Homo sapiens: one gene and its partners. The protein of the gene in region 2 purifies or fractionates together with the protein of the main gene of each other region. This does not show direct contact. Each region holds a gene or a part of one and is shown on either strand. Other genes may lie near its edges.

Region 1 (6,248 bases), on a different chromosome or scaffold from region 2:
TCCTTCTCTGTGCTCTCCCTCCCTCTCTGACACACTCTCAGGGCCTCATGTACCGGGGGATACTGGACGCTCTGCTGCAGACAGCTCGGACCGAGGGCATTTTTGGCATGTACAAGGGTATAGGTGCCTCCTACTTCCGCCTCGGCCCCCACACCATCCTCTCCCTCTTCTTCTGGGACCAGCTGCGCTCCCTCTACTACACAGACACTAAATAACAGCCGCTTTCCCAGTCTCCACCAAATGAGCACTCCTTGGCCACTTGTGCCTCCACCACTATGTCCTGGTGACTACTGATTAGGTGACCTTTCATCCATCCATGGGGGACAGCCAACCCCACTCCCCATCTGTTCTCAGGGTTGAATCACTACAAGAGATGAGTTTCCCTTCTTTCCTTGGGTGTTGCTTTAAACCTTCCCTACCCATTCCCTGGGTAACTCACACCCCTCTCTCAGGGCTGAACGAGTCATCCCAAAGTGTATTTCCTCCCACTCACCACTGCCACCCTTGAGTCCCTCCTGCTCCCATGCACAGTTTTAAACTCCTCCCTCCAAAACCAAAGGGAATCGAGAGACCCAATTCCCAGGCGTCTGGGACCCAGGTGTCCTGTTAGATTCAAAGGCACAGAGATTATATTGATTATAAAGCAAGTTTATTCTGAAGAGGGATTGTCTTATGTTTACGCACAGGGAAGAAATAAGAGGAAACCCTCTTTTCAACCTCTTTTCCCCCTCACAGAACCGAGTCCCCAAGTTCTCAGCAACATCATGCAGTGCTTCAGCGCCTTTACTGGGGACCAAAGATGTTAGGATCGTGAAGGGTCAGACTGGTCACCAGCTGTTCAAAGTCACCCAGGCTCCAGGGTGCAGGTGACAGATTTTCGGGGCCAAGAGATGACCTGTTGTCAGGGCTTGGGGTGGGGGAACAGATGGAGACAGAACATCATCCAGGCCTGAGGTTTGGAAATTGCCAATTCCTGTTCCCCAGAGGACCTGGGTATCAGTTACCCCAAACCTCTGGCCCACTCCTGCTTCCTTGGAGGATCCCACCAGTGAGTCTCCCTGTTCTGTCCCTCCCAGCCCGATTCTCCTGGGAACCCAGTCATGAGATACCCGCCCGTTCCTTCCTCCTTACGGGGGCTGATTGAAGGTAAGCAAGAGATCAGTCTGGTACTGGGGCAGCCTCAGCAAGGCCTGATGAAGTGTCACGTCCTTTGCTACCTAAGGGGATCAGAGTCAGGATGCTTACCTGGATCTCTGCGTCCCCGCTACCGCCCTTCCAGGACATTACACACTCTCGGGCCCTCACCTGCTGGTTTTCCTTAGCTATCTGCTGCTTGCCAGAGAGGACCCAGGCTTCTTGACAGCGGCCCCTCAGGGCCAGGTTCTCCAAACTGAGAGGCTGAACAGACTCCACATGGACAGCCCTAGCCCCCTGCACGCCACCAACATCCTCAAAGTGGTACCTGGAGTAGGGAAGCGGGGTCAGGAAGGGACATCTCTGGTCGCCTCCCCGGGAGCATCTTTAAGTTGCAGGCCTGGCTCCCGGCCCGTGCGTGGTCTCACCGCCCGGATTAACCGTCGGCCGCGGGCCCCGCCCACTGGTCCGACCCCGCCCCTGCCATTGGCCAGCCGGGGGCCATTCCCTCACCGCGCAGCCGCTTCGCCCCGTACGTGGGCCTGCAGCTCGAGAAGTTCCACTATCAGGCTCTGGTCCGTCACGGGATGGCAGAAAACTTCTTGATTGTCCGGGACCGGTCGGAGGTCGCTGGAGTGAGGCGAGGCAGACCCTGGTTGACCCCGGTCTCTTCCCACAACCCACCCAGTCAGCCGCCCCTGGGCGCCCCGGCCTTCTCACCTTACGTCAATGGCCCCCATGGGGAGGATGGCGGAAAAGGCGCCCCCGAACAGCGGGCAGTCTCTCGTGGGCTCCATGGGTCTGAGGCTGGGTTATGGGCATTAGAAAGGTTTAAAAGAAGTCCACATTGGGTCACGTGGCATCGGCTCCCTGGGTTTCGCAGCTGCCACCGCCACCCGGGTCTGGCTTAGCTCCCGGATCCTTTAAGATTTGGCTCCGCCCTGCGCTCTCGTTGGCCAATCGGCGCCAAGACCCTGGGGGCGGGGGTCAGCGGCTTTGCTCCGGAAGCCGCGCTCTTAGGAGTGCGCCTGGCGGGACGGTGGGGTCTGCCTTGGGGTTGGACTTAGGGTTAGGGTCTATGTCGCCCCCGGTGGTCACGAGCATGCTCCCGCCAGCCTCCTCTTGATTGATTGATTGATTGATTGATTGACAGGTCTCGCTGTGTCGCCCAGGCTGTAATGCAGTGGCGCGATCACCGCTCACTGCAGTCTCCACCTCCAGGACTCAAGTGATACTCCTGCCTCAGCCTCTTGAGTGGCTCCTGCTCCCGCCACCACGCCCGGCTAAATTTTTAATTACTTGTAGAAATGGGGCGGGGTGGGGAGTGTCTCCCAATCTTGCCCAGGCTGGCCTCAAACTCCTGGACTCAAGCGATCCTCCCGCCTCGGCTCCCTAAGTGCTGGAATTACAGGCGAGAGCCACAGCGCCTGGCCTCCTCGTCCTTTTCAAGTGGTCACACCTTCCAAGAAGGTCGCCTGAGACCCTCCTGAGGGGCAGGTGCTCGTCAAAGGGGCCCACGTCTAGGTAGGGTCTCTTGAGTCAGGAAAGCATAGTTTCACGGTGTTCTGGGCCTCTGAAAGAAGAATGGGCTGCCACCCAGACCGCTAATTCATAGATCTGCTGCTGGGAATTAGGGGAACAATGCGTCCAGGTTAGGATTCAGGTCTCACATCTTCCTGAAAGTGAGAGCCAACCTGGGTATTAGAAATCTAATTCCTCTCAAATATTTGCCTTGGGAATGCTCCCGGGCAGGTGCAACCCCACCCCCAGCTCCACACACCTGGACAGAAGCACAGATTAAACCCTCTTTTGTTTGTCTTTTACAGATTTGTTGTGTTCTTTAAGTTTTAACTTCACTATATCATTTCAGTTCATTTCTCTATTCATCTTTGATCCTCAGCACCCGGCACGGTGTTTAGAGCATAACAGACCTGATATATATTGGGTTTTTTTGTTTTGTTTTGTTTTTGAGATGGAGTTTCACTCTTGTTGCCCAGGCTGGAGTGCAATGGCATGATCTTGGCTCACTGCAACCTCCGCCTCCTGGGTTCAAGCTGTTCTCCTGCCCCAACCTCCCAAGTAGCTGGATTACAGGCATGCACCACCACACCCAGCTAATTTTGTATTTTTAGTAGAGATGGAGTTTCTCCATGTTGGTCAGGTGAGTCTCGAACTTCCGACCTCAGATGATCCGCCTGCCTTGGCCTCCCAAAGTGCTGGGATTATTACAGGCGTGAGCCAGCGTGCCCAGCCCAGACCTAATATATATTGTTAAGTGATTGAATAAACTCAATGCAAATGTCTGGAACCCAGGAGATCACCCATACCCTCATGGATTCTAGATGTCACCTACTTCCCAGCCAAGAATTGGGCAAGAGGACTCTGATCTTGAGGCCATTCCACAGGGTTCCAAGTGCTGACCATACCTCTGGACCCTAATGACTTAGTGAAATGAAGCCAAAGGGTACATATTTATTGGTCTCTTACCTTGCCAGGCCCTAATGTGAAGGGCTGGAGATACAAAGACATTTAGGACACAGCCCCCGATGCCTCACTGAAGGAACAGTGGAGCACACTTTGAGTCTTTTTTTGTTTTTTTTTTTGAGAGGCGGTCTCACTGTTGCCAAGACTAGACTGTAGTGGTGCAGTCGTAGCTCACTGCAGCCTCAACCTTGTGGGCTCAAGCCATCCTCCTGCCTCAGCCTCCTGAGTAGCTGGGACTACAGGCATGCACCACCATGCTCCGGTAATTTTTGTGTGTGTGTGTGTGTTTTATTTTAGGGATGGAGTCTCACTGTGTTGCCCAGGCTGGTCTCGGACTTCTGGTCTCAAGTGATCCTCCTGCCTTGGCCTCCCAAAGTGATGGGATTATAGGCATGCGCCACCATGCCTGGCCCATACTTTGAGTCTTAAAGTTTGACTCAGAATTCAGTAGGACATCCTAGGGGTATTCTAGCTGGGGGAACATCAGGAGCAAAAACTTGGAGATGAGAGGGCATATTTTGGAGAAAGCAAGTGTATCTGTTTGGCAAGGGAGGGTAGGATGGGAATGGGTGGCAGGGAGCTGCAAACACAGTCAGGTGTGCAGGGTTTTTGTAGCGCACACTAAGGAGCTTGACTCCTCATTTCTTACTATAGCCATCAGACTCCTCTCTGAGTCTCATTTCCTCATCTCTAAAATGCTGTTGGGGGGCCAGGCGCCGTGGCTCACACCTGTAATCCCAGCACTTTGGGAGGCCCAGGTGGGTGGATCACCTGAGATCAGGAGTTCTAGACCAGCCTGGCCAACATGGTCAAACCCTGTCTCTACTAAACATACAAAAAAAAAAAAAAACAAAGGAAGAAATCAGATATGGATGTAGTTGAGTCTGACCTATTTCTGGGTAAAGAGAGTAGAATAAGTTTGCTGTATGAGGAATTTGACAGAGCGGGGGCGTTACAGGCTCTAGAGGGAAAGAAGGACCCCAGCCATGGGAAACAAAAGGAGCCAGGTCAGAGGAGTCCACCCCATGATGCTTCTCTGGGATAATGAGTGACAGACCTCTCTGTCCCTCTCTCCTCCTTGCTGCCAGCCTGCTCTCCAGCTCCATTCCCCACCAGGGGCAATACTGGCTCTGGCTGCTTTGGGAGCAGTCAAGCAGGTAGAGTCCTTGGAAAGGGACCTACAGGGACATAGAAGTTAACAGGGTGCCTGCACCAGGCATAAGGGGGTGTGGAGGCCTGTTACATGGGCCCAGAGGAGGTCACGCCAGGTCAGGAAGGCTGAGAAAAAAGCCCCCCCAACTTCCTCATTTTGGGTGTCTGGCCTGTCTCATGTTCTCCCATGAGCCCTACGCAGCTGGGGACCCCTGGCCCTCCACAATTCTGTGGGCTCTTGGGGGCTGCTCAGCCAGACCTCCTCTGAATGAATGGGGTGGAAGGCCACCCTCACTTGGCAAATCCCCACGCTTGGCTCCACTTCCCCTTCTCCCTTCACCTTTTTTTTTGTGTGCCTGTCAATTCTGCTGGCCCTGCCACCTGTCGACTCCCTCAAGTGTTCAAATTCCAACTTCCCAAGGGACAGGATCCAACTGGGTCGATTAGTTGTTATTCAATCTGAAAGTACCTATTTGGCCGGCTCTCCTGCCTGGCCACTCCTCAGGCCACCACCCAAACACAAGGGAGATCTCTGGTCCAGCTGGCTGTGGCTAGGATGATAAGTATCAGGGGACAAATCTCAGTAGAGAGAAGGCCAGCAGCCACTTTTCTCAGGCGAATGTGAGGGTATGGCTCGCTGTCAGCCCACTGGTTGCAAGTAGGCCTGCAACTGATTGATTCTCTACACCTGGGACATTCCCTTATCCAATGCCCTGCATGCAGTTGATGCAGTTGTTTGCTATGGGGACAAGAGTCCCAGAGACTCTCCCCTTTAGGGCACCAAGAGATGGACTCAGATCAGAGAGACAACACCACACCCAAAGTCAAGCATTCCTTTGAGTTAGGACAATGAATATTTCTATTAAGCAGGGGTTTTCGTCCTTTTTTCTACTGTGGACTGCTTTGGCAGTTTTGTGAAGCCCATGATCCCCTATTCGGTGTAATGTTATTATTTTTATTTTTTCTGTGTTTTTGAGACAGGGTCTTATTCTGTCACCCAGGCTGGAGTGCAGTGGCATGATAACAGCTCACTGCAGCCTCAACCTCCTGGGCTTAAGCCATCCTCCCACCTTGGACTCTCAAAGAGATTACAGGCATGGGCCAGGTGCGGTGGCTCACGCCTGTAATCCTAGCACTTTGAGAGGCCTAGGTGGGCAGATTGCTTGAGCTCAGGAGTTTGAGACCAGCCTGGAAAACAAAGTGAGACTCTGTCTCTATTACCAAAAAAAAAAAAAAAAATTAGCCAGGCATGGTGGCATATGCCTGTAGTGCCAGCTACTTGGGAGGCCAAGGTGGGAGGATGACTTGAGCCTGGGAGGCAGAGGTTGTAATGAGCCAAGATCACGCCATTGCACTCCAGCCTGGTCAACAGAGCCAGACTGTTTCTCAAAAAATAAAAAAGAAAATTAAACCCAGATATTTGATAGAGTACAAGTCTACTTCTTTGTTATCATATTAACTAGATCTAGCAGCAGTCT
Region 2 (7,413 bases):
GATCGCGCCACTGCAGTTCAGCCTGGGTGACAGAGTGAAACCCTGTCTCAAAAAACAAACAGGGGGTCGGGTGTGGTGGTGGCTCACGCCTGTAATCCCAGCACTTTGGGAGGCCAAGGCAGGTGGATCACCTGAGGTCAGGAGTTCGAGACCAGCCTGGCCAACATGGTGAAACTCTGTCTCTACTAAAAATACAAAAATTAGCTCGGCGTGGTGGCATGCACCTGTAATCCCAGCTACTCAGGAGGCTGAGGCAGGAGAATCGCTTGAACTCAGGAGACAGAGGTTGCAGTGAGCCGAGATCGCGCCATTGCACTCCACCCTGGGTGACAAGAGCGAGACTCCGTCTCAAAACAATAACAACAAAAAAAAAAAAAAAAAGAAAGAAAGAAAGAAAGAAAGAAAGAAAACAGAGGCCAGGCGTGGTGGCTCATGCTTGTAATCCCAGCACCTTGGGAGGCCAAGACAGGTGGATCACTTGTGGTCAGGAGTTCAAGACTAGCCTGGCCAACATGGCGAAACCCTATCTCTACTAAAAATACAAAAAAAAATTAGCTGGGCTTGGTGGTGAGCCCCTGTAATCCCAGCTACTCAGGAGGCTGAGGCAGGAGAATCGCTTGAACCCGGGAGGCAGAGGTTTCAGTGAGCCAAGATTGCACTACTGCACTCCAGCCTGGGTGACAGAGCAAAAACTCTGTCTCAAAAAACAAACAAACAAATAAACAAACATGGACTGGGCACTGATCTTTTCCACACCCTGAACTGGACACTGGGGACACAGTTGTTAACAAGATGGGCACTTCCCTTGCTAAGTGACACTCAGTGTGGGAAATAGAAAATAACGGTATAAATGTATCCTATATTGGAGAGTGACAAGGACCAAGGAGAAAAATCAAGCCAGATGAAGATGGAGAGAATTTAACTGTAGGTTTAAAAATTAAAGGAAGCTGACACTTGCCTGTACTCCCAGCTACTTGGGAAGCTGAGGCGGGAGGATTGCTTGAGCCCACGAGTTCAAATCCAGCCTGGGCAACAGAGTGAGACTCTGTCTCTTAAAACTAACAAGGCCAGGTGGGGTGGCTCATGCCTGTAATCTTAGCACTTTGAGAGGCTGAGGTGGGAGGATCGCTTGAGCCCAGGAGTTCAAGACCAGCCTGGGCAGACATAGCCCGACCCTGTCTCTACAAAAAAGAAAAAAATCAGCAGGCGTGGTGGTAGAAGCCCGTGGTCCTAGCTACTCAGGAGGCTCAGGTGGAAGAATGGTTTGAGCCTGGGAAGTCGAGGCTGCAGAGAGCCGTGATCACGTAACTGCATTCCAGCCTAGGGGACAGAGCAAGACCACCCTGTCTCAAAAAACAAACAAAAAAAGAGAATGGGGACCAAGATCCAGCTGAAACCTCATACATGGAAGAACTTGAAGATGGGGAAACTGAGGGACCAGGATTAGGTGCTTATGGGAGAACACAGGTGCTGTTTCTGCCCCGGTACACAGTGGGCACCTTACTGATAAATGCCCAGTGTGTAAGTGAATGACTCCAGTCAGGAAAGAGATAGACGAGGTTGGGGCTGCTTTTCCAAGTACGGGAATCCAACCGAGCCGGGCGGGAGCCCTCCAGCTGGGACCCACCCAGATCTGCAGCTTGATCCTCTTGTCGTTGCGATAGATGGTCTTGACCTTGAAGTCGATGCCCACGGTGCTGACGAAGGCAGGCGTGAACGAGTCGTCAGCATAGCGGAAGAGGAAGGACGTCTTGCCCACGCTGCTGTTGCCGATGATGAGAATCTTGAACATGTAGTCGAAGTTCTGATCCGAGGACTCCTTCTGCCCATAGCGCGAGTCTGTGGCGGATGCCATCTGGGGATACCGGGTGTAGCAGAGCCGTGAGGGGGGCTCTCTCCATCCTCATGTGCCCAAGCCCAGGCAGAAGATGGCAAGGGCTCCAGAAAACGGCCGGTGTATGGAGGACACCCTTATCCCATCAGGAGCCCCAGTATTAATTGGTGGTGCCCCCAGCAGAGGGCAGCCTGTGACCTTGAAATCCTGGGCGTTTCAGAGGAGGGGCTCAGAGGGTTGCCGATGGGGACACCCCAGCAGCCCCCTTCAAGGGGCAGGTGCCCCAGGTGGGGCTGTAACCCTAAACCCAGGGCTGAGCCCGGAGGGGGTGACTGCGGCTGGCTCCGCCCCCCATCAATCTTTCATGGTCCTCAGAACCCGGCCGCGCGGCCCCACGTGCACCGCGTGCATGGTCCCTCGAGGACGCGCATCTGCAGCCCCCGCTCCCCGCAAACCTCCAGGCCGGAGAGCTCCGGCCAAGGCCGCTGCATCACATGATACAGGAGGGGCATGCACACGCTCACGTGCACACAGCCTCAAACACGCTCATCCGTACATACAGGAGTGTGTGAACGCACTGAGGTGCACAGGACAAAGACACAGACACCTGTTTGCACACCGACTCGCCTATAGAAATGTGCAAACCACCCGTGCGCACAGGCCCCTCCACCCATGCAGGCGTGTGCACATCACCCACACGGACACGGATCCCCGTGCTTGTATGCACGGGCCATACCTGCACAGGCGGTCCACACGTCTTTCTCCACGCGCGTGCAACGCTCACACACTTAGGCCCAGACCCCCACGGCGTCACACGAGCATATCCAGGTACACAAGCAAGGGTGCACACAGACCCGCTGACACAGGCAGGCGCGCACACGCGTGTGCACACCACGCGCACGCGCACGCAAAAGCCTCCCGCGCGCACAGCTTCCCGCAAGGAGCTCGGCTCCCCTCCCCCTCCGCCGCAGAGCAGGGGGGTTGGGGGGGTTAGTGGTGAGGATCAGGCAGGAGTGGGGCGCCCGGGCCCTACCCATTCCCAGCCTCGCGACCGCCGCATCCTTCCCCCCATTCAACCCTAGTCAACCTCGTCCCCCACCTCCATCAGCCCATCAGTCAAATGAAGGTTATGCAGGTGCTCGGAGCCTGAGCACACCCGGCCGCCCAGGAGCTCACCTTGCCCTGCACCGATGCAACGGCGACCCTAGCGGCGGTGACTTTTTTGGCGGTGGCGGTGACAGGACCCCGGTGCGTTGATGTGGGGCTGCGCGGCGGCGGCGGCAGCAGCGGCTCAGGCCCCTGCAGTCCTCCGTGACGTCCTGCAAAGGGAGGGGCGGAGCCTCACATGTAGATAAGTCCGTGACGCCATCCGGAGGCGGAGCCGCGCGTAGAGATGTGGCCCATTGACGCACGCAGAGCCAGATGGGGCAGGGCTCCTGAGCAGATTGACGTGCAAATGGGGCGGGGCCTAGCGTGTGCATCCAGTAGGGGCGGGAGCGGCGCGGGGGCCGACTCCGCCTCTCGTCCGCCTCCTGTCCGCCTCGGGGAGGCGGGGCCCCTCAGCGTTCTCTCACTGGCTTAAGCTCTCGAGCGACGGGCGAAGTAGCCAATCAGAGATTGTCTACGCCCTCCTCTTGTCCAATGGTGGCATCTGGGAGATTGAAGGGCCGAGAGGCTGAGGCCTTGGCTGAGCCCCGGTCTTCGAGGGGCGGTTCCCTTACCCGCCCGCACCCACCCCAGGTAGGGGACTCTTGAGGCCACCGTCTAGTCCAAGGTGCTGTGACCCCTGTTAAATGCCCCTGACTCCCAATTGCAGAAAAGAAAAATCGAGGCCCAAGAGATGTTTTATACCCTCACATATATGGGGTTCAAAATAAATACCAAAGAATAAACAGGAGTCAAGAGGGACCCCTGTCCCATTCCCGAGGCGTAAGACCCCCCCACTGAGGGAGGGGCTAGTAAAGACTCCACCCCTCCCCCGTTTCTGAGGTTTGAAAAGAAAGAAGTAGAGGTCAAGAGAGCCTCCCCTCCCCACCATTCCCAGAAAAGGAGGAAGGGGCTGATGGACTCTCTGGGAACCCCCTCCCCTCCCTGCGCCCCGTCATCAAGAAGAAAATTCGAAGAAAAGGTTTAGCAGGGACAGAGAAGCGACCTGTCCCGGAAACCCCTTAAAGCCTGCGGTAAATGCCCCGGGAAACAGGGAGGGCACGAGCCGAAGCCTCCAGCTCTTCAAAGCTCGGATTCAAAGACCCGGGGGCTGGGAGACCCCCTCCCTCCATCCTGGGAAAGCAAAACTCAGAGGATGGAGCCTTTTGGGAGCTAAGATGGTCCATCTTTTATTCCTCCAAATCTTTAGGGAAGGAAGTCAGAATTTGGGGAGGGAGGAGGAGCCCGAAACCCCAGCCCCCACTTTGGGTCTCCTGCTCCCCCTACTCCAGCTTTCAAACCCTCCAGGGGTGTGTGGCCCCCAGGAGAGTCCTGATCCCCTAGATTCTCCCCCCACCCCTCCCAGTAGGCGGGGCTGGAGCGTGTGTGTGTGGCGGGGGGTGACTCGTCCTGTTTATAAAAAGCTCGCCAGCTGCGGAGGCGCCGAGAGACCAGAATAACTTAGCGCCTCGAGGCCCAGCCGCCGCCAACCCAGTCCCCAGCCCGCCCCCAGTGCCCTGGGAGTACTGGGACGCCCACCCCCACGTCCCCGCACCGTTTACATTTGGGAAATTTATTTTTTCTTTTTAGGGTAACATGTTTGCTCCCTCCTCCCCCACTCGGACTATAGAAGTATCACCAATCCACTGCAGAGAAATTGGGAAAATTCAGAAAAACAAAAAATAAAAAGAAATCCACCTCCCATTCTCCCTGCCCTCCGCGCCCACGCGGTAGTCCGTGCTCTGTGGGGGGCTCCAGGGCAGCTGGTCCAGGCCCTGGCCTGCCGCCTCCTTGGAGGGGAGGTTTTTCGGTTGCTCAGCTCCCTGATCGCCCAAAGGCACGCTTCCTACATGGGTGGCTCTCTCGGAAATACCTCCTGCCTTTTTTCCCCAGGAAGAGAAAAGTGAGCCACGAGAATGTGCGGAAGCTTCCGTCACTGACTTAGTATTTTAAAGTAAAAATAGCCGGGTGCGGAGGCTTACGCCTGTAATCCCACCACTTTGGGAGACCAAGGCGGGAGGATCGCTTGAGCCCAGGAATTGGAAACCAGCCTGAGTAACATAGGGAGGCCCCATCTCTACAAAAAATTTAAAAATTAGCTGGATGTGGTGTCGCGTGCTTGTGGACCCAAATACTCCCGAGGCTGAAGTAGGAGGATCACTTGAGCTCAGGAGGTCGAGGCTGTAGGAAACCGTATCGCGCCACTACACTCCAGCCTGGACGACAGAGTGAGACGCTGTCTCAAAAAATTAATTACTTAATTTAAATTTAAAAAGAATGCAAGCCCTTGATTGTCCAGAGCAGCATTGGGCTCTGGAATTAGAAATGGTTGAGCTGGGGGAGGGGCTGCGGGATTGGGGTATTTTCTTTGTGTCAGGGGAGACAGAGCTGGTGGGAGAACGGGCTAGGCTTCCAGGCCGGTCCCACTCAGAGGAAAGTCCAGAGGCTTCCCTGCATCCCTACCCTATCGTCTACACTAGACAAATAAAAATAAAAATGTGGCCAGGTGCGGTGGTTTATGCCTGTAATACCAGCACTTTGGGAGGCCGAGTCAGGAGGATCACTCCTTGACCTTGAGGTCAGGAGTTCGAGACCAGCCTGGCCAACATGGTGAAACCCCATCTCTGCTAAAAATACAAAAATTAGCCCGGTGTGGTGGTGCCTGTCCCAGGAGGCTGCTCAGGAGGCCCAGGCATGAGAATCGCATGAACCAGGGAGGCGGAGGTTGCAGTGAGCTGAGATCACCGGCACCACTGCACGCCAGCCTAGGTGCTAGAGGGAGACTCTGTCTCAAGAAAAAAAAAAAAAAGTATCCCAGATACGGGTCCAGGGACGACTTCTCGGGGAAGAAGACACTAACTTAAAACCCAGTGTGGGGGCCAGGTGTGGTGGCTCATGCCTGTAATCCCAGCACTTTGGGAGGCCGAGGTGGGTGGATCACCTGAGGTCAGAAGTTCAAGACCAGCGTGGTCAACATGGTGAAACCCCATTTCTACTAAATATTAGCCGGGCATGGTGGCGGTCGCCTGTAATCCCTGCTACTTGGGAGGCTGAGGCAGGAGAATCGCTTGAACCCGGGAGGCAGAGGTTGCAGTGAGCCAAGATCACGCCATTGTCCTCCAGCCTGGGCAACAAGAGCGAAACTTTGTCTAAAACAAAAATAAAAACAAAAATCTAATGGGTGAGGCTGGGGGCTGAGAGAGAAGCATTCCAGGTAGTGGGAACAGCTTGTTTGAAGGCCCTGTGGTGGGACCAGGCTTGCAGTGTGGCCAGAGCAGATGCAGTCAGTAAGAGGAGAGGGACAAATGCCTTTGGCTCAAACTGAAGGAGAACATATGAATATTCATTTATAAGAAATATGAATATTCTAGGGCTGGGTGCAGTGGCTCATGCCTGTAATCCCAGCACTTTGGGAGGCCGAGGCAGGCGGATCATGAGGTCAGGAGTTCAAGACCAGCCTGGCCAACATGGTGAAAACCCAGTCTCTACTAAAAATACAAAAATTAGCTGGGCATGGTGGTGGGCACCTGTAATCCCAGCTACTCAGGAGACTGAGGCAGGAGAATCGTTTGAACCCAGGAGGCGGAGGTTGCAGTTAGCCAAGATCACACCATTGCACTCCCGCCTGGGCGACAAGGCGAGACGCAAAGAAAGAAAGAAAGAGAAAGGGAAAAGGAAAGAAAAGAAAGACAGAGAAAGAAAGAAAAGAAAAGAAAGAAAAAAATATGAATTTTTTTTTTTTTTTTGAGACAGTCTCGCTCTGTCACCCAGGCTAGAGTGCAGTGGCTCGATCTTGGCTCACTGCAAGCTCCGCCTCCCGGGTTCAGGCCATTCTCCTGCCTCAGCCTCCCGAGTAGCTGGGACTACAGGCGCCTGCAACCACGCCCGGCTAATTTTTTGTATTTTTAGTAGAGACGGGGTTTCACTGTTAGCCAGGACGGTCTCGATCTCCTGACCTCGTGATCCGCCCGCCTCGGCCTCCCAAAGTGCTGGGATTACAGGCGTGAGCCACCGCGCCCAGCCAAAAATATGAATATCTTATAACAGATGGAGAAAAACTAGAGGGAAATAAGTCAAAATACTGCAGATAATCCATGGGTGGAGATACAGCAGAATTTTATTTCCTTCTTTATACATTTCCATTATTTCCAAATTTTTTACAGCGAACATGGTATTACTTTGTAAGCGGACTGGGGGGAAAAATCTTGAAAAAAAAATTCCCTAAATATCTTCTTTTTAAAAGTCTGGAAGGAAATGCACCAAGTTCGTGAACCCGGATGACTTTTAGTTCTGGCACTGTGGAATTTTATCATTAACTGTGATGATGATGAATTCTGAGTGGTTATAATATTTATGAACGAAGCCAGCTGCTCTGGAAGCCGAGGGCGGCTGTGATGACGCCTGTATCTTGTATAAATATTCAGGCACGCGAA
Region 3 (7,941 bases), on a different chromosome or scaffold from region 2:
CTCTACTCCTCCCGGGCAGGAGGAATAGAGAAGCAGGAAGCAGGCTGGAGGACATAAAGCTCCATTTGCACACTGCACACACTGTTTTATTTAGCTCCTAGGTTTGTTTGGGGACTGGTGGGGCTGCTAAAGGAATAATGACCAGCCATGTACAGTGGCAGCTGTGTACACCACCGACGTGGTCTGGCCCCAGCCCACGTTCACAGCCCTACTGTACCTCACTTCCTCACAATGACCAATTGTTCATCCTTTCAATAAATACTTGCTGAATAACTGAAGGGAAGAAAAAGATGGAAGGAAAGAAAGAAAGGGGCTTCCATCCCAGCCAACCGACACAGTGGAGACAGCACAGCATCAAGTTTTAAATATCAGCTCGGTGACCTCTAATTGAGTCCTTTGGCAGCTCTCTTGTTCTGAGGAGCCTGTTTCCTCATCCATAAAGTGGGGATCATAATAACTCTGTGATTGTGGTGAGGAACAAATGAGGCAATGTATGCAAAGCACCCAACATATAAGTCAGTGACCCCTGCTATGACTTTCATCCCCCATAACAGGAGGAAGGGGGATTATCCCCCTTCCATCCCCCATAACAGGAAGAAGCCTGCATTACCCACTACTTGGGATTCAAATGAGGTGATACTAGCGATTGTAAACTGTAAATCACTATAAACATGAGATATTTTATTGTCATTACCCACTGTAACCTACTTATAAGCATTTGCTTATACTGTTGCCCCTACCTTCCACTTAACTGAGTCCTACCCTTTCTTGCAGTCAAATGCTGGCTCTACCTCCTTCTGGAACATTCCTGGGGCCTCAGCCCAGAGCTCACTCTAGCCTCTAACCACAAGCCCCTAACGTGCTGGGCTTATGCCAGCTCTCAACACCACTGGATTCTGTTCCTCTTCTTCTTACCTGGATTGCAAATCCCCTGGGCAGGAATCAAAGCCATGTATGAATGAATCAATGAAAGAACCAGGTGCAAGCACAGCACACAGCACAGGGCTGGGCTTCTGTCCCTTCCCCGGGCACTCGCTGGGCCTCATAGTGCCAGGTTCTGTGTGAGGTGCTGGGATTTGGAGATGCTCCAGCGGGGAGACAGACAGGCAGATCTGTGACAATGACTCCCCCTGTAAGTGCCATAACGAGGGGGCACAAAAGGCTGGGGAGCCAGGAAACAGTGCAGCTATTTGTGGGAGAGTCAGGGAGGGTTTCCCTAGGAATGACGTTTAGTGGATCTTAAAGGACAAGTAGGAATTTGCTCAATAGAAGATGGAAAGACAGAGCAGAGAGTTGGGAAAGGACCTGTCAGTCAGTGTGGCCAGCGGCAGCGGTACCTGGTGTATGGGGTCGCTGGGAGAGGGATGGAATGGGGTGAGAGCGAGGGCCTTGGCTGCTAGGCACAGGAGTCTACACTTGATTCACTGGCCCACGCGGGGCCGGATTGAGGTGTGCAGCCTAAAATAGTAAGGGGCCGGAGGGGACCACCAGGGGAGAAGGCTCCCTTTGCAGCCCCCTAGAGAGACCGGTCTCCTGGGCTGTAAGGGTTGCTGGCGCCCCCGCAAGCCCTGTGCTGCCTGCTGTGTCTGTCTCCCAGGCTGTGAACCTCCGGGCCATGTTCTCCCAGCACCTGGCGCAGGTCAGGTGCCCAGCCCACGACTGCTAAATACCAGGATGAGCCAATGAATGCACAAGGCAGTGCCCGGAGGAAGGCGGGGGACGGGCGGAGGCCGAGCGGATGCGGGAGCCTGAGCTGCGCCCGGCTTTCAGGAGCGCGGGTGCGGGCGCGCGGAACTCACCCTGCGCGCAGCGGCGGGGCGTCGGGGTCCCCAGCCCCGGGCCCAGAGCGCGGCAGCAGGCGGCCTGCGAGCGGCGCCGGCTCTGCAGCTGGAAGGAGACGCGCCGTCCGGCGGCCTCGGCCTCGAAGCCGGACACCACCTCGGCCTCGGCCAGCGGGTACACGAACACGCCTGGGGAGGGCGGCGGGAGGCGGCGTCGGACCCTGCCCGGCGCACCCCCCGCCGCGCCCGCGCCCCACCCGGGCCTCACCGTCCACCGGCTGCGGCTGCGGGTTGCGGTAGGTGAGCCGGGCCCGCACGCTGAGGCAGGGGCCGTTGGCGCAGGCCCGGACCCAGGAGTCCGTGAGCGGCAGCGGCGTCCAGCTGGAGGGGCAGTACAGGCCGGGCATGGCGCCGGGAGGCCGGCCCTGCGGGAACGGGCCGGGGAAGCTGGGCGCAGGGTGACGGGACGCCCACCCCGCGCTCCAGAGGCCAGCGCGAGAGTCTCACTCCAGCACCCGGACGGGGCCTGCCGGGGCGCGAGGCCGAGCGGGAGCTCCTGAGGGCGACAGGTGGCGGGGGAGATAAGGGGGCGGCAGGCGTGGTGGCGAGGAGGGCATCCTCACGCGTTACCTGGGCAGCCGGGCCGCGGAGGGTTAATGATTAACGCGCGCTTCGGCGCCCAGCAGTCCCGCCGCGGCTCCCCCGGGGGTGGGGGCGGTCACAGCTGTTCCACCGCCCACTCCCAACCTCGCAGCCACCCCCGTACCTGCCGGCCCCCCGGGGCCCCCCGCGGCCGCCAGCTGTCGGAAGCGGCGCGGGTGGAGATGGAAGATGCTCCGGGAAGGCGGAGGTTTAAAGGGCCCGAATCCCCCCGGAGGCCCCCGGCCCTGCGAGGGATCGCGGGGGCAGGGTGGATGGGGCGCCGAAAGGGCCTTGGTCTTTCTCTCCCTGGTGCCTCATCCGACGGGGGTGCTGGCCGGAGTGGAGGGGTTAAGGGTGGGAAGAACGAGCTGGGAAAGCGAAAAGAGGGGGTCTTTGGGAGGCAAGCCCGGGAGAGGTGTCGGGCCAGGGAGAGTCCGTGGGAGCCGCCAGGTTACCGCTCCCTACCCCGGCAGAGCTGATGTGGGAGGAGGGGGCACCTGCAGTGGCCGCGGCCCGCGCAGGGGATGCCGCGGGCTGGCTCTGGGGATCGCCCCGCTCCCTGTGGCAGTCTCAGCCTCACCGTCGCGCCCTCCGCGGAGTTCTAGGTGCCCACGGGATCCGTGTGGGTGGTGCCGCCTCTGCGCTCCGGGTGGCCCTCGGTCCCGGCACCTGCCGGCCGCCAGTTCGTGACTGTGGCTGCAGCGGCTCTGAGTCCCGGCAGGGGCGCGGGCCCTGCCGGCGGTGGTCCCGCCCCCGTTCCGAGAGGCCGCCCCTCCAGCCTGCCCTGGCCACGCCTGCTGCTGCTGCGGCGGGGCTGGCGCTCCCCCCTCCTTCGGGCGCGGTACCGCCTCCGCGCCAGCCGCGGCAGCCCGAGCCAGACTGGGCACCGCAGTGCAGGGACCGCGTCCCCGCCGCCGCACGGATCCCCGTCACTGCAGGACCGAGGCCTCAGAGACCCCACCCTTTCCATTCTTCAGGAATCAGGCGTCCTGCAAGTGCCACCGACACTGCCGCGACCCCAGCTATCCCATTACCACGACGGCATCCCATTCCCCAGCCCACCCCACCCCCTGCCCTGGGTTGCTTCCCATCGCTGCAGAGACCCTCCCTCCTGACTGCAGCGAACCCCCCAGCCCCCCATCACCGTCACCGCAGGACTCTTCCCCCAAGAAGCTGGCCCCTTTCCTTTGCAAAGTGCTCTTCATCACTGCAGAAAACCTCCCCCATCCCTGCAGGTACTTTTAGTTCATGCAGCCACTTCAGTGACCACTCACTCCAAGCAGGGATTCCTCATCACTGCAGCGACCTCCTCCCACCCCCAAGCAGCCGGCCTTGGCATCGCTGCAGTGCCAACCACTTCTGCTGGGGTGGGAGGGTGTGCACAATAGCGCCCTCAGCCTATAACCCCTTGGTCTCTTCAGCTGTGCGGGCCTTGGGAGTGAAGCCTTCTAGCCTGAAGAGCCTTCTTATGGCTGCAGACCGTCCCCTCATAGCAGTGACCCCCACCCATCACCGCAGCCCTGAAGAGAAAACATCTCTGCTTGTCAGGAGGGCCCCTTGTTATTGGCAGACTTTGCATGTGCTTGACAGTGTTATGCTGTCAAAAAGTAGGAAGGTCCGGAAAACCTCTCCCAGGTCCCCCAAGGAAGAGTCTGAGAGCCCTGGGGAAGTGAGAGGAGATGACCATGTTTGGGGATCATCCATGTAAGCTTTTTGGCAGATGCCATACTGAGATTCTGCAGAGAGAGCTTGAGGAGAGCTGGGGATGGAGGACAGCCAGTAGGAAGTGAGCTTTCGAGTCGGGCCCATGGTTCTCACTCCTCCGCATTAACTCTCTCCTTCTGATTTCAATCACTATCACCAGGGATCATCCCCCCGGGGGATCCCTGCCTCCTTGAGTATCTGAGCCCTCAACCCCAACCATCTCCTTTGCTCACCCTACTTAGCATGGTGGAGAGAGCTTGACCTTTTCCCAGGGAATTTCATGGGTGGAAATGCACAGGAATGATACAGGGAGCACAGACACAGTCACACGTACCCAACACACAGGGAGCTCCAGCTGGGTCCTAGCCCTCTTTCCATACTACCTGGGTCATGGTTCCATTCACCTCTCTCCCCCTTTCTCTACTGAGTCTGTTCTCAGCTTCATCCTGAACGAGGGTCCCTCTTTCAGGCCTAGGGAGAAACAGTGGATGGGCTGATGGTCCCTCCAGGTGATCCAGGGCCTCAGGTAGGACCAGCCCTGGCCCTGAGGGCCTCACAAAGGTCCAGGCAGTGGCCACCTTTCCACAAGCACCTTGTGCTCTGCCCCTTCTACAAATGAACCAAGAGCTACATGTAGCCCTTGGACAAACATGAGGTTGCAAATAGCAGTCATTAGGGAGGTCTCCGACACATGGAAATGGAAAAAGAGGTCCTTCTGTTTGGTCCTGAGGAGAGCTTAGATGTAAGACAGCCTCCCAGGAAGATAGCATCCCTATCAGAGACCAGACACACACACTGGCAGAAGTCAAACTTTGCTGCAAAGCTGGACCAACCCTGAGATCTTGCTAGGAAGGTCTCCTTAGCTGAGGCAAATGGAGGGAGAGACAGGTGAATGGCTCCACAAAAAGCATAGGGCACCCTGCAGGATGAGGGGCAGGGGGTGGGGAGCCAGTGCTGGCTGCCTGGCACCTTGGGTGGGGCAGTAAGAAGGGTCTCTGAGGCCCAGCTGGAAGGCCCTCTGGTGGTGAGGCAGCAGCATGACAGCCAAGGGCAGAAGGGGACAGCACAGGAACCAGATTCCAGATCTGAGGCCGGGCTGAGGGATAGCATGGGGTGGGCTACGTGGTAGTCATAGGAGAATAGATGATATAGATGATATACATATAGATATAGATATATAGATATATTTTTTGAGACAGAGTTTCGCCCTGTCGTCCAGGCTGGAGTGTAGTGGAGCGATCTCGGCTCACTGCATGCAACATCTGCCTCCCAGGTTCAAGTGATTCTCCTGCCTCAGCCTCCTGAGAAGCTGGGATTACAGGCGAGCACCAGCATGCCTGGGTAATTTTTTGGATTTTTAGTAGAGACAGGGTTTCACCATGTTGTCCAGGCTGGTCTTGAACTCCTGAGCTCAGGCAATCTGCCTGCCTCAGCCTCCCAAAGTGCTAGGATTATAGGCATGAGCCACTGCGCCTGGCCCATAGGAGGATATTGAGCTGAAAAGACTTAGCTTCTGCCTAGGAGAGTCTCACACTTTAGTGAAAAGGGCAGACAAATATACAGTTACAGTAGCTTGAGATAAGTGCTGCATTACAAGAGTAATAGTAATGGATATTATAAAAGCTTTTAACTGGCTGGCGGTGGCTCACACCTGTAATGCCAGCACTTCAGGAGCCTAAGGCAGGAGAATCCCTTGAGGCCAGGAGTTTGAGACCAGCCTGGACAACATAGGGAGACCCTATCTCCATAACAATTAAAAATTAAAAAACAAATCTTAACCAAGGGTGGTGGTGATGTGGGGAATAGGGTGAACCTTAGGGAACTGACTTAGAAAATGGCACTCAGCCAGGTCTTCTTGTTGCAAAGCACAACTCAATTATCTCCTGCTTGTGGGCTGCCTGTCGGCCTTTGGAGGGCAGAGGTCTTATTTCCCCAAACTATAGATGATCTACCCTCTCAGATTGGAGCTCCAGAAGAGATATACCTAGAGAAAAAGAGGAATTTTGCCTCTTGCTGTCTAAAGCTTGACTTCCAAAATCCCAGCCCCTGCCTGAAACCCAAATTGGAAGATGGTTTAGTTCATTAATTCATTTGTTCACTCAAGAAATATTTCTTGTTGAAGCCTGCGGTGTGCTAGAGCTGGAACTACAGCAGAAAACAAGACAGTGGTAGCCCCTCCCCTCACGAAAGACGTCAATTAAACAATTAATTTTTAAATTTTGTATTTCAAAATAACTTCAAAACTTCTACAAAAGTTGCAAATAAAGCATTTTTTTCTGAACCATTTCAAATTAAGTTTTACACATCCGACCTCTTTACCCCTAAACACTTCGGTTTGTCTTTTCTTTTCTTTTTTTTTTTTTTTTCAGAGACAGGGTCTCACTCTGTCACCCAGGCTGGAGTGGAGTGGCACAATCATAGCTCACTGCAGTCTTGAACTCTTGAGCTCAAAGGATCCTTCCTCCTTGGCTTCCCAAAGTACTGGGGTTACAGGTGTGAGCCACCATGCCCAGCCAGTTGGTGTGGGGGGGGGTAGTTTTTTTTATTTGTTTGTTTGTTTGTTTGTTTTGAAACACAGTCTCACTGTTTTGCCTAGGCTGGAGTGCAATGGCTCAATCTCAGCTCACTGCAACCTCCGCCTCCCGGGTTCAAGTGATTCTCATGCCTCAACCTCCAGAGTAGCTGGGACTACATGTGCACGCCAGAATGCCTGGCTAATTTTTGTGTTTTTGTTTTTATTTTTATTTTTTGAGATGGAATCTCACTCCGTAGTCCAGGCTAGAGTGCAGTGGTGCGTGTGCAATCTCAGCTCACTGTGACCTCCACCTCCCAGTTCAAGCGATTCTCCTGCCTCAGCCTCCCGAGTAGCTGAGAATACAGGCACCCACCACCATGCCCAGCTAATTTTTGTATTTTTAGTAGAGATGGGGTTTCACCAAGTTGGTCAGGCTGGTCTCAAACTCCTGACCTCAAGTGATCTGCCTGCCTCAGCCTCCCAAAGTGTTGGGATTATAGGTGTGAGCCACTGCTCCCAGCCTTTAAGAGTCTTCTACTGGGAGTAGTTTCTCCTTTTTGTCTTTTGTGATACTGACACATTTGAAGAGTACTGGCCAGTTGTTTTGTAGAATGTCCGTCAGTTTGAGTTTGTCTGTTGTTTCCTCATAATTAGATTCAGGATATGCACTTCCCATAGGAACACCACATAAGTGACGTTGTACCCTTCTCACTATATCTCATTGGGAGGATGTACATGTCAGTTACAGTTACTGGCGATTTTAACTTTGATCCTTTCAATAAGGTGGTGTGTTAGGGTTCTCCAGAGAAAACAGAACCAACAGAGATTGAGAGAGAGAGAGAGAGAGAGAGAGAGAGAATACGTATATATAAAATAAGGAATTGGCTCGTGTGCTTGTACAGGCAAGTCCAGTGCGGGCTGGCGGGCTAAAGACCCTGGAGACCGGATGGTGCAGATGAAATTTGGAGGCAGCCTGCTGGAGAATTTCCTCTTTCTCATGGAGGTCCATCTTTTTGTTCTGTTCAGGCCTCAAGTGATTAGATGAGGAACATTGTGAAGGTTAACTCTGGGTCTTAGCTTGACTAAATTAAGGAAGACCTATTCAGAAGCCGGGGCCAGGCGCGGTGGCTCACGTCTATAATCCCAGCACTTTGGGAGGCCGAGGTGGGCAGATCACCTGAGGTCAGGAGTTTGAGACCAGCCTGGCAAACATGGCAAAACCCTGTCTCTATTAAAAATGCAAAAATTAGCCAGGTGTGGTGGTGGACAACTGTAATCCCAGCTGAGGTGGGAGAATTG

The links.
Region 1: the proteins of RAB3A (region 2) and RANGRF purify together in Homo sapiens (affinity purification with mass spectrometry; 3 studies listed by BioGRID and IntAct, with this or other methods). This does not show direct contact.
Region 3: the proteins of RAB3A (region 2) and VWA5B2 purify together in Homo sapiens (affinity purification with mass spectrometry; 3 studies listed by BioGRID and IntAct, with this or other methods). This does not show direct contact.

What each region holds. Positions count from the first base shown.
Region 1 is NC_000017.11:8,284,472-8,290,719, reverse strand, and holds RANGRF (ran guanine nucleotide release factor), read right to left. Parts: upstream 2,051-6,248; 5' UTR 1,932-2,050; coding exon 1,855-1,931; exon of another isoform or gene 1,765-1,854; coding exon 1,648-1,764; exon of another isoform or gene 1,463-1,647; coding exon 1,306-1,462; coding exon of another isoform or gene 1,218-1,305; coding exon 1,132-1,217; coding exon of another isoform or gene 1,128-1,131; exon of another isoform or gene 1,105-1,127; coding exon of another isoform or gene 1,077-1,104; exon of another isoform or gene 908-1,076; coding exon 784-907; coding exon of another isoform or gene 736-783; 3' UTR 633-735; downstream 1-632. Other genes in the region: SLC25A35 (solute carrier family 25 member 35), read left to right, coding at 42-215. UniProt on the Homo sapiens protein: May regulate the intracellular trafficking of RAN. Promotes guanine nucleotide release from RAN and inhibits binding of new GTP by preventing the binding of the RAN guanine nucleotide exchange factor RCC1.
Region 2 is NC_000019.10:18,200,886-18,208,298, forward strand, and holds the start of RAB3A (ras-related protein Rab-3A), read right to left. Parts: upstream 3,158-7,413; 5' UTR 3,011-3,157; intron 1,856-3,010; coding exon 1,628-1,855; intron 1-1,627. UniProt on the Homo sapiens protein: The small GTPases Rab are key regulators of intracellular membrane trafficking, from the formation of transport vesicles to their fusion with membranes.
Region 3 is NC_000003.12:184,224,776-184,232,716, reverse strand, and holds the start of VWA5B2 (von Willebrand factor A domain-containing protein 5B2), read right to left. Parts: upstream 3,133-7,941; 5' UTR 3,004-3,132; exon of another isoform or gene 2,921-3,003; intron 2,365-2,920; exon of another isoform or gene 2,338-2,364; 5' UTR 2,189-2,337; coding exon 2,050-2,188; intron 1,971-2,049; coding exon 1,800-1,970; intron 1-1,799.